2 linked regions of the Homo sapiens genome follow. The protein of the gene in region 1 interacts with the protein of each later gene in a biochemical or structural test. Each region holds a gene or a part of one and is shown on either strand. Other genes may lie near its edges.

The links. Proteins that work in one complex are often made in the same cells at the same time.
Region 2: of the proteins of MSTN (region 1) and BMP1, one has a biochemical effect on the other in vitro, tested with the Homo sapiens proteins (one study listed by IntAct).

Annotation. Positions count from the first base shown.
Region 1 is NC_000002.12:190,055,953-190,059,895, reverse strand, and holds part of MSTN (growth/differentiation factor 8 preproprotein), read left to right. Parts: intron 1-2,257; coding exon 2,258-2,638; 3' UTR 2,639-3,943. UniProt on the Homo sapiens protein: Acts specifically as a negative regulator of skeletal muscle growth.
Region 2 is NC_000008.11:22,163,775-22,167,374, forward strand, and holds the start of BMP1 (bone morphogenetic protein 1 isoform 3 precursor), read left to right. Parts: upstream 1-1,597; 5' UTR 1,598-1,631; coding exon 1,632-1,779; intron 1,780-3,600. Other genes in the region: SFTPC (surfactant protein C isoform 1 precursor), read left to right, coding at 109-267. UniProt on the Homo sapiens protein: Metalloprotease that plays key roles in regulating the formation of the extracellular matrix (ECM) via processing of various precursor proteins into mature functional enzymes or structural proteins.

The DNA of each region.
Region 1 (3,943 bases):
TATCCTATGAAACACTCCCTTGATACTCTTACTTTGCATCAAGATTTTAGAAAACAATTATACCATACTTCTTAACTTCTTAAGAAGTCCTTTTGAATTGGGAATGAAATATAAAGTGCTTTTCATTAATATGATACATGACTGTATGTATTAAAATATTAACTCTATATAGTGGATTTTACCACATAAACCAACAAATCCAAACATTATTTTTTTCTCCCAGAAGGGTGCCAAATGTGTTAAAGATTTTTGGCTTAGCATAAAACAGATAAACCTTTTAAAATTATAATTAAATGTTTTATTCAGAGAAATTAAGAGTGATATTTATAGGCTTATACTTTATTAAATATATTTAAGGTTTCTCAAGATAAATATGTTCATTATTTGTAGGATGTTGATGCACTGATGTGTGTATATATTTCTTTGTGGAATACTCCTAATAAAATTTCAAGTTACATACTAGTTAACCTTTGCCACCTAGCTTATTTCTGAGCTGCCTTAGCATTCTTGTGCAAAAATTTACTCAGGGAAGGCCGACTAATTTAGTACCAGGCCAAGTAAATGACAATACCTTATATATCACAAAAATTAATAAAAACCATTTTAATTCCTAGTACAAATTTAGGGTTACTCTTCTGGCTTACCTAAATTTCTGTTTTCAAATACTTAATGTGATCACATCTTTTTACGTTCATCTATTGATATAATTTACAAAAGAAGATTATACTTGTAAACAACAAACCTGTTACCTTTGTAATCATTCAATGATCTTAGTTATAAAGATGATATAATTAGCAGATCAGATCTACTCTAAATAAAACATTCTTTAAAATACTATACAATATTTTTTCATTTTTATTACTTTATTATATATATGTGTATATATATATTTATACACACACACACATGTTTTACTTCAATATGTTGGGGGGTACAAGTGGTTTCTGGCTACATAGATGAATTGTACAGTGGTGAAGTCTGAGGTTTTAGTGCACCCATCACTCCAAGTAGTGTATATTGTACCAAATATGTAGTTTTTAATCCCTCATCCCTTTCTGAGTCTCCGAAGTACCTTATACTACTCTGTATGTCTTTGCGTACGCATAGCTTAGCTCGCACTTGTAAGTAAGAACGTATGGTATTTGGTTTTCCATTCCCTTCGAATAATGGCCTCCAGCTCCATCTAATTTGCTGCAAAAGACATTCCTTTACTCTTTTTTATGGTTAAATAGTATTCCATGGTGTATATATACCACATTTTCTTTATCCATTCATCCGCTGATGGGCACTTAGGCTGGTTCCATATCTTTACAACTGTGAATTATGCTGCGATAAACATACGTGTGCAGGTGTCTAAAAGACTATACAATTTTCTAAATGATCTAGTTTCCTTTATATATGCTACTTTAAATGTTAATGACTCCCAAAATGATATTATTATTTTTGACAGTCTTAAATAACACTGCCAGAGCTATTTTCATTTAGATATGGGTTAAAAACTACTGTCAATTATTTAAGAAAGTGTTCCTTTTTATAGGTAGAATTTTAATGATCAAAATTGATAATATGTCCAGTGGTTAATATGTTGTGTTCCTCAGATTTTTTCATGTAAAGGGAAACAAAGTCTCAAATGCATTAAAAGATTGGGGCAGAGACAGAATCAACAAATTTTTAAATACCTGAATAGAAACATTTTCCAGTGAAAGAATAAAGGAAATATCATCGTCTCTTCTTCTGAATTTGTCCTTCCCTATTTTGCCCTGGTTTTATTGTCCAAGTTTTCCTGAGTGAGGAGGATGGATGACTATACCTAACCCTCCAGGAGTTACCAGGCATATTTAGCCAACATATTTAATCAGGAAGCAAGAAGAGAGGGAGCTGTTAGCTCTTTCCTTCATTCCCCACTTCTTCTTCTCCTCTCTCTCTCCTTTCTTCCTTCCCTCCCTTTCTTCCCATAAATATTTTCAGGACATCCATTATGTGCCAGGCAATCTGGTACTCAAACTTGGAAAAATAAAACTTAAAAAGACATGGTACTGACCTTAGGGGAATTTGTATTGCTGTTAAATTCTTTTGAGACATAAGGGGAAAATCAAGCCTAGTGTAAATTAACATTCCTTAATGCTGTGCCTTTTAAAAATAAATGTGGTATGAGCAAAATTATTAGTTTATTACTTCAACAATAACTTCTTAAGGTAGGTAGAAAAGTGTTTCCAGGCCTATTGATATTACTGATTGTTCTTTCCTTTTCAAACAGAATCCGTTTTTAGAGGTCAAGGTAACAGACACACCAAAAAGATCCAGAAGGGATTTTGGTCTTGACTGTGATGAGCACTCAACAGAATCACGATGCTGTCGTTACCCTCTAACTGTGGATTTTGAAGCTTTTGGATGGGATTGGATTATCGCTCCTAAAAGATATAAGGCCAATTACTGCTCTGGAGAGTGTGAATTTGTATTTTTACAAAAATATCCTCATACTCATCTGGTACACCAAGCAAACCCCAGAGGTTCAGCAGGCCCTTGCTGTACTCCCACAAAGATGTCTCCAATTAATATGCTATATTTTAATGGCAAAGAACAAATAATATATGGGAAAATTCCAGCGATGGTAGTAGACCGCTGTGGGTGCTCATGAGATTTATATTAAGCGTTCATAACTTCCTAAAACATGGAAGGTTTTCCCCTCAACAATTTTGAAGCTGTGAAATTAAGTACCACAGGCTATAGGCCTAGAGTATGCTACAGTCACTTAAGCATAAGCTACAGTATGTAAACTAAAAGGGGGAATATATGCAATGGTTGGCATTTAACCATCCAAACAAATCATACAAGAAAGTTTTATGATTTCCAGAGTTTTTGAGCTAGAAGGAGATCAAATTACATTTATGTTCCTATATATTACAACATCGGCGAGGAAATGAAAGCGATTCTCCTTGAGTTCTGATGAATTAAAGGAGTATGCTTTAAAGTCTATTTCTTTAAAGTTTTGTTTAATATTTACAGAAAAATCCACATACAGTATTGGTAAAATGCAGGATTGTTATATACCATCATTCGAATCATCCTTAAACACTTGAATTTATATTGTATGGTAGTATACTTGGTAAGATAAAATTCCACAAAAATAGGGATGGTGCAGCATATGCAATTTCCATTCCTATTATAATTGACACAGTACATTAACAATCCATGCCAACGGTGCTAATACGATAGGCTGAATGTCTGAGGCTACCAGGTTTATCACATAAAAAACATTCAGTAAAATAGTAAGTTTCTCTTTTCTTCAGGTGCATTTTCCTACACCTCCAAATGAGGAATGGATTTTCTTTAATGTAAGAAGAATCATTTTTCTAGAGGTTGGCTTTCAATTCTGTAGCATACTTGGAGAAACTGCATTATCTTAAAAGGCAGTCAAATGGTGTTTGTTTTTATCAAAATGTCAAAATAACATACTTGGAGAAGTATGTAATTTTGTCTTTGGAAAATTACAACACTGCCTTTGCAACACTGCAGTTTTTATGGTAAAATAATAGAAATGATCGACTCTATCAATATTGTATAAAAAGACTGAAACAATGCATTTATATAATATGTATACAATATTGTTTTGTAAATAAGTGTCTCCTTTTTTATTTACTTTGGTATATTTTTACACTAAGGACATTTCAAATTAAGTACTAAGGCACAAAGACATGTCATGCATCACAGAAAAGCAACTACTTATATTTCAGAGCAAATTAGCAGATTAAATAGTGGTCTTAAAACTCCATATGTTAATGATTAGATGGTTATATTACAATCATTTTATATTTTTTTACATGATTAACATTCACTTATGGATTCATGATGGCTGTATAAAGTGAATTTGAAATTTCAATGGTTTACTGTCATTGTGTTTAAATCTCAACGTTCCATTATTTTAATACTTGCAAAAACATTA
Region 2 (3,600 bases), on another chromosome or scaffold:
CCCCTCTTTACTGATGAGAAAACTGAGGCTCAGAGAGATTGCCTGATATACCTGAAGTCCCACAATAAGGGCTGCACATGGGATAGAAACTCACTTCCTACATTCCAGATGGAATGCTCTCTGCAGGCCAAGCCCGCAGTGCCTACGTCTAAGCTGGGCCAGGCAGAGGGGCGAGATGCAGGCTCAGCACCCTCCGGAGGGGACCCGGCCTTCCTGGGCATGGCCGTGAGCACCCTGTGTGGCGAGGTGCCGCTCTACTACATCTAGGACGCCTCCGGTGAGCAGGTGTGATCCCAGGGCCCCTGATCAGCAGCGGAGGAGCGCTCGGGCCACCTGCCCGGGCTGTGGAGGAGCGCTCGCGCTGACCAGGCGCTGGGGCGTCCACTGAAGCGGGGTCATCCAGGCAACTCGGGGGAGGGGAAGCTCACAGACCGGTACTTCCCACTCCCCTGATTCTCTCTGTCCATCCTCAACATTCCTTTGCTTCACAGGGTCAGTGGAAGCCCCAACGGGAAAGGAAACGCCCCGGGCAAAGGGTCTTTTGCAGCTTTTGCAGACGGGCAAGAAGCTGCTTCTGCCCACACCGCAGGGACAAGCCCTGGAGAAATGGGAGCTTGGGGAGAGGATGGGAGTGGGCAGAGGTGGCGCCCAGGGGCCCGGGAACTCCTGCCACAACAGAATAAAGCAGCCTGATTGAAAAGCAAAGGGTCTGCTTCTGTCTTCCTGCAGGGCGCAGTCCTGCCCTGGCGGGGGCCGGCCAAGAAGGGAAGGGCCTTGGGAGAGCAAAGTGGGGTTTGCCATTCGCCCTCTGTCCCAGGGCGCTGGGGCACTGGGTCCACCTCGGCGGGGGAGAGGGGCTCGCAGGGAGCCATCCACGGGCTTTCGGCGCCCTCCAGCGGCGTCTCCGGAGGAGGGAGAGACACCAAGACAGCGAGAGAGACAGAGCGCAGAGAGCGAGACGCGAGAGAGCGAGGGTCCAAGAAGGGGAGATAGGGAGACGCGGGCGGAGAGACCGACCCGAGGCGGGGGCGCGGGGCAGGGGCGGCGCGAGGACCTGACAGCGTGTCCCGCGGCGGGGCGGGGGCTCGGCCGCGCGCCCGCGGGGGAGGCCGCCGCTAGAGGGCACTTCAGGAGGGACAGCCCTCCCGGCACCCCGGGGCCCGAGCTCCAGCCCCGGCCTCGCGGCCCGCGGCCCGCGGCCCGGGCGGCCCGAGCCCCCTCCCCGGGCGCGCGGCTCTCCGCCTTCCCCGCCCCGGCTGGCGCGCGGCCCGGCCCGGCCGAGCACTGTCCCGGCCCCGAGGGGGGCAGAGCTCGGGCGAAAACCCGCCCTCCAGCGAGCTCATTTCCCTAAAAAGGGGGGGGGGAGTCGGAGGGAGGGAGGGAGGGAGAGAAAGAAAGAGAGAAAAAGAAGGAAAGGGAGAGGGAGACGGCTGGAGCCCGAGGACGAGCGCGGAGCCGCGGACCGAGCGGGGGGCGGGAGACAGGAAGGAGGGAGGCGAGCAGAGGGAAGGGGAAGAGGTCGGGGAGCGAGGGCGGGAGCGGTCGCGGTCGCGATCGAGCAAGCAAGCGGGCGAGAGGACGCCCTCCCCTGGCCTCCAGTGCGCCGCTTCCCTCGCCGCCGCCCCGCCAGCATGCCCGGCGTGGCCCGCCTGCCGCTGCTGCTCGGGCTGCTGCTGCTCCCGCGTCCCGGCCGGCCGCTGGACTTGGCCGACTACACCTATGACCTGGCGGAGGAGGACGACTCGGAGCCCCTCAACTACAAAGACCCCTGCAAGGCGGGTGAGCGCCCCCCGGCCCCCCGGCGACGGGCCAGGCGGGGAGGCGCGGGCGGGTTCGGGCTTGGGGTTGGGGGAGGACAGTCCAGTGTGGGAAGCCGGGAGCTGCCTGGTTGGCAATGCAGTGGGGAACAAAAGAACGAGGGGGAGAGGGAGGGGGATTTGGGGGACTTTTCGGACTGAAGTTTTGCCGCTGTTGGTGGAAGCTGCTGCCGCTGCCTCTCATCTTCCCAGAGGATTCCAGAGGAAGTCTCCTTGCGTCCCGGGAAAACCGGCGGGCAAGGCGGCTTTTCCTTCTGTAGGAAACTTTTCTGGCCAAACTCCTGTGCGTGCGTGTGTGTGTGTGTGTGTGTGTGTGTGTGTGTGTGTGTGTGTGTTCTTTCCCCTTCTCCCCCATCTCTCCTGCTCCAGGAGCTGGGTGTTTTCCAGCCTGTCTGGGCTGCCCTGGGGCTGCACATCTGTCTGGCTTGGATCTGGGAGGCCTGAGTCTCCAAGGAGCAGGTCCCCCAGCCACCACCCAGCCCAAGTGGAAGAAGAAAGTTTTTCCAGGGATTCCCTGAGATCGTGCTCTCTGGGTATCCCGTAGTTTAACCAGTAGCTGAAGCTTTCTGGGACTTAGGAGACAGCTGTCAAAGTCAGAGAAGCCAACCCAGAAGGGGGACTTAACTTTGTCCCTATGTGCCCAGAGACCCCCGCCAAGGCCAAGTTGGGGTGGAAAGAGGGAAAATACAAAGAGAACCCAGATATTGTATATCAGCTCTGTCACCCCCGAGACACCAGAGGCTAATTAGCTGAGGTCAGGACCCCGGAGTGTGTGTTTGCCTGTATGTGTGTGTGTTCTTTGTCTCTGAAGACTCTATGTAACCCCATCACTCCTGCTGAGCCCAGAAGGGTCCTGCCCCTGGAGTGACCAGATGGCCAGGCACTCGGGCCATTTGCCTGATTGGATGACCCTGGGCAGGCTGTTTGGGGACACACAGGGACAAGATATCAGAACTTTTCCTTGACTTCCTGCCTCTCTGACTTCAGCTCATCTCCAAATAGCCAGAGCCAGGGGAAGTGGCATAGTTGCTAGAACTGGACTGCCTGTGTGGGGCACCAGGGGCGGAGGGGCAGGTTGCTCTAGTCCTGGCTCTGGAGACCCTGTTCAGGGACTCTCCTGGGAGGGTGGCCCACAGGCAGGAATAAGAGACCATCCAATGGAGGAAATCAGGGCAAATCCCTCAGCCCTTACCCCTCTACACCTGCTGGGCTGCGGGTAAACCAGGACATTTGCTGTCATTTTTCTCGCTGGGGGCTGGGAGTGGGTACAGGGCAGAGTGGACTGCGCATGGACTTTGAAGGCAGGCACATCTAGCTTTCAATCCTGACCCTGCTACTCATTATAGCTGTACCACCTCAGAATGGTAATGATCATGTCTGAACTGCCACTTTCACACCTGTAAAATGGAACTGATCATGCATCTTCCCATAGAGTTGGTGGTAAGGGTTAAATATGAAAACATACATAAAACACTTAATAGTGCTTAACACACAGTCAGCGCTAAATAAATGTGGGCTCCCTACTCCCTGTTTTCTGTGCCTCAGACTGTCACTTCATTTTTTTGAGAGGTGTGGGATTGCTGGTGTCTCCTTGTGCCTCTTATCCATCAATCCATCAATACCTAATATGTGCTAGGGCCTGGAATGGATGTTGTGGGAGGTACTGAGACGTACAAGCTAGGACCCTGCCTTCAAGGAGCTTACAGTCCAGTAGGGACCCAAGACACCTACAGACATAACCAATAGCACAAACCAAGCCACACTGAGTGCCACATTGGAGGGT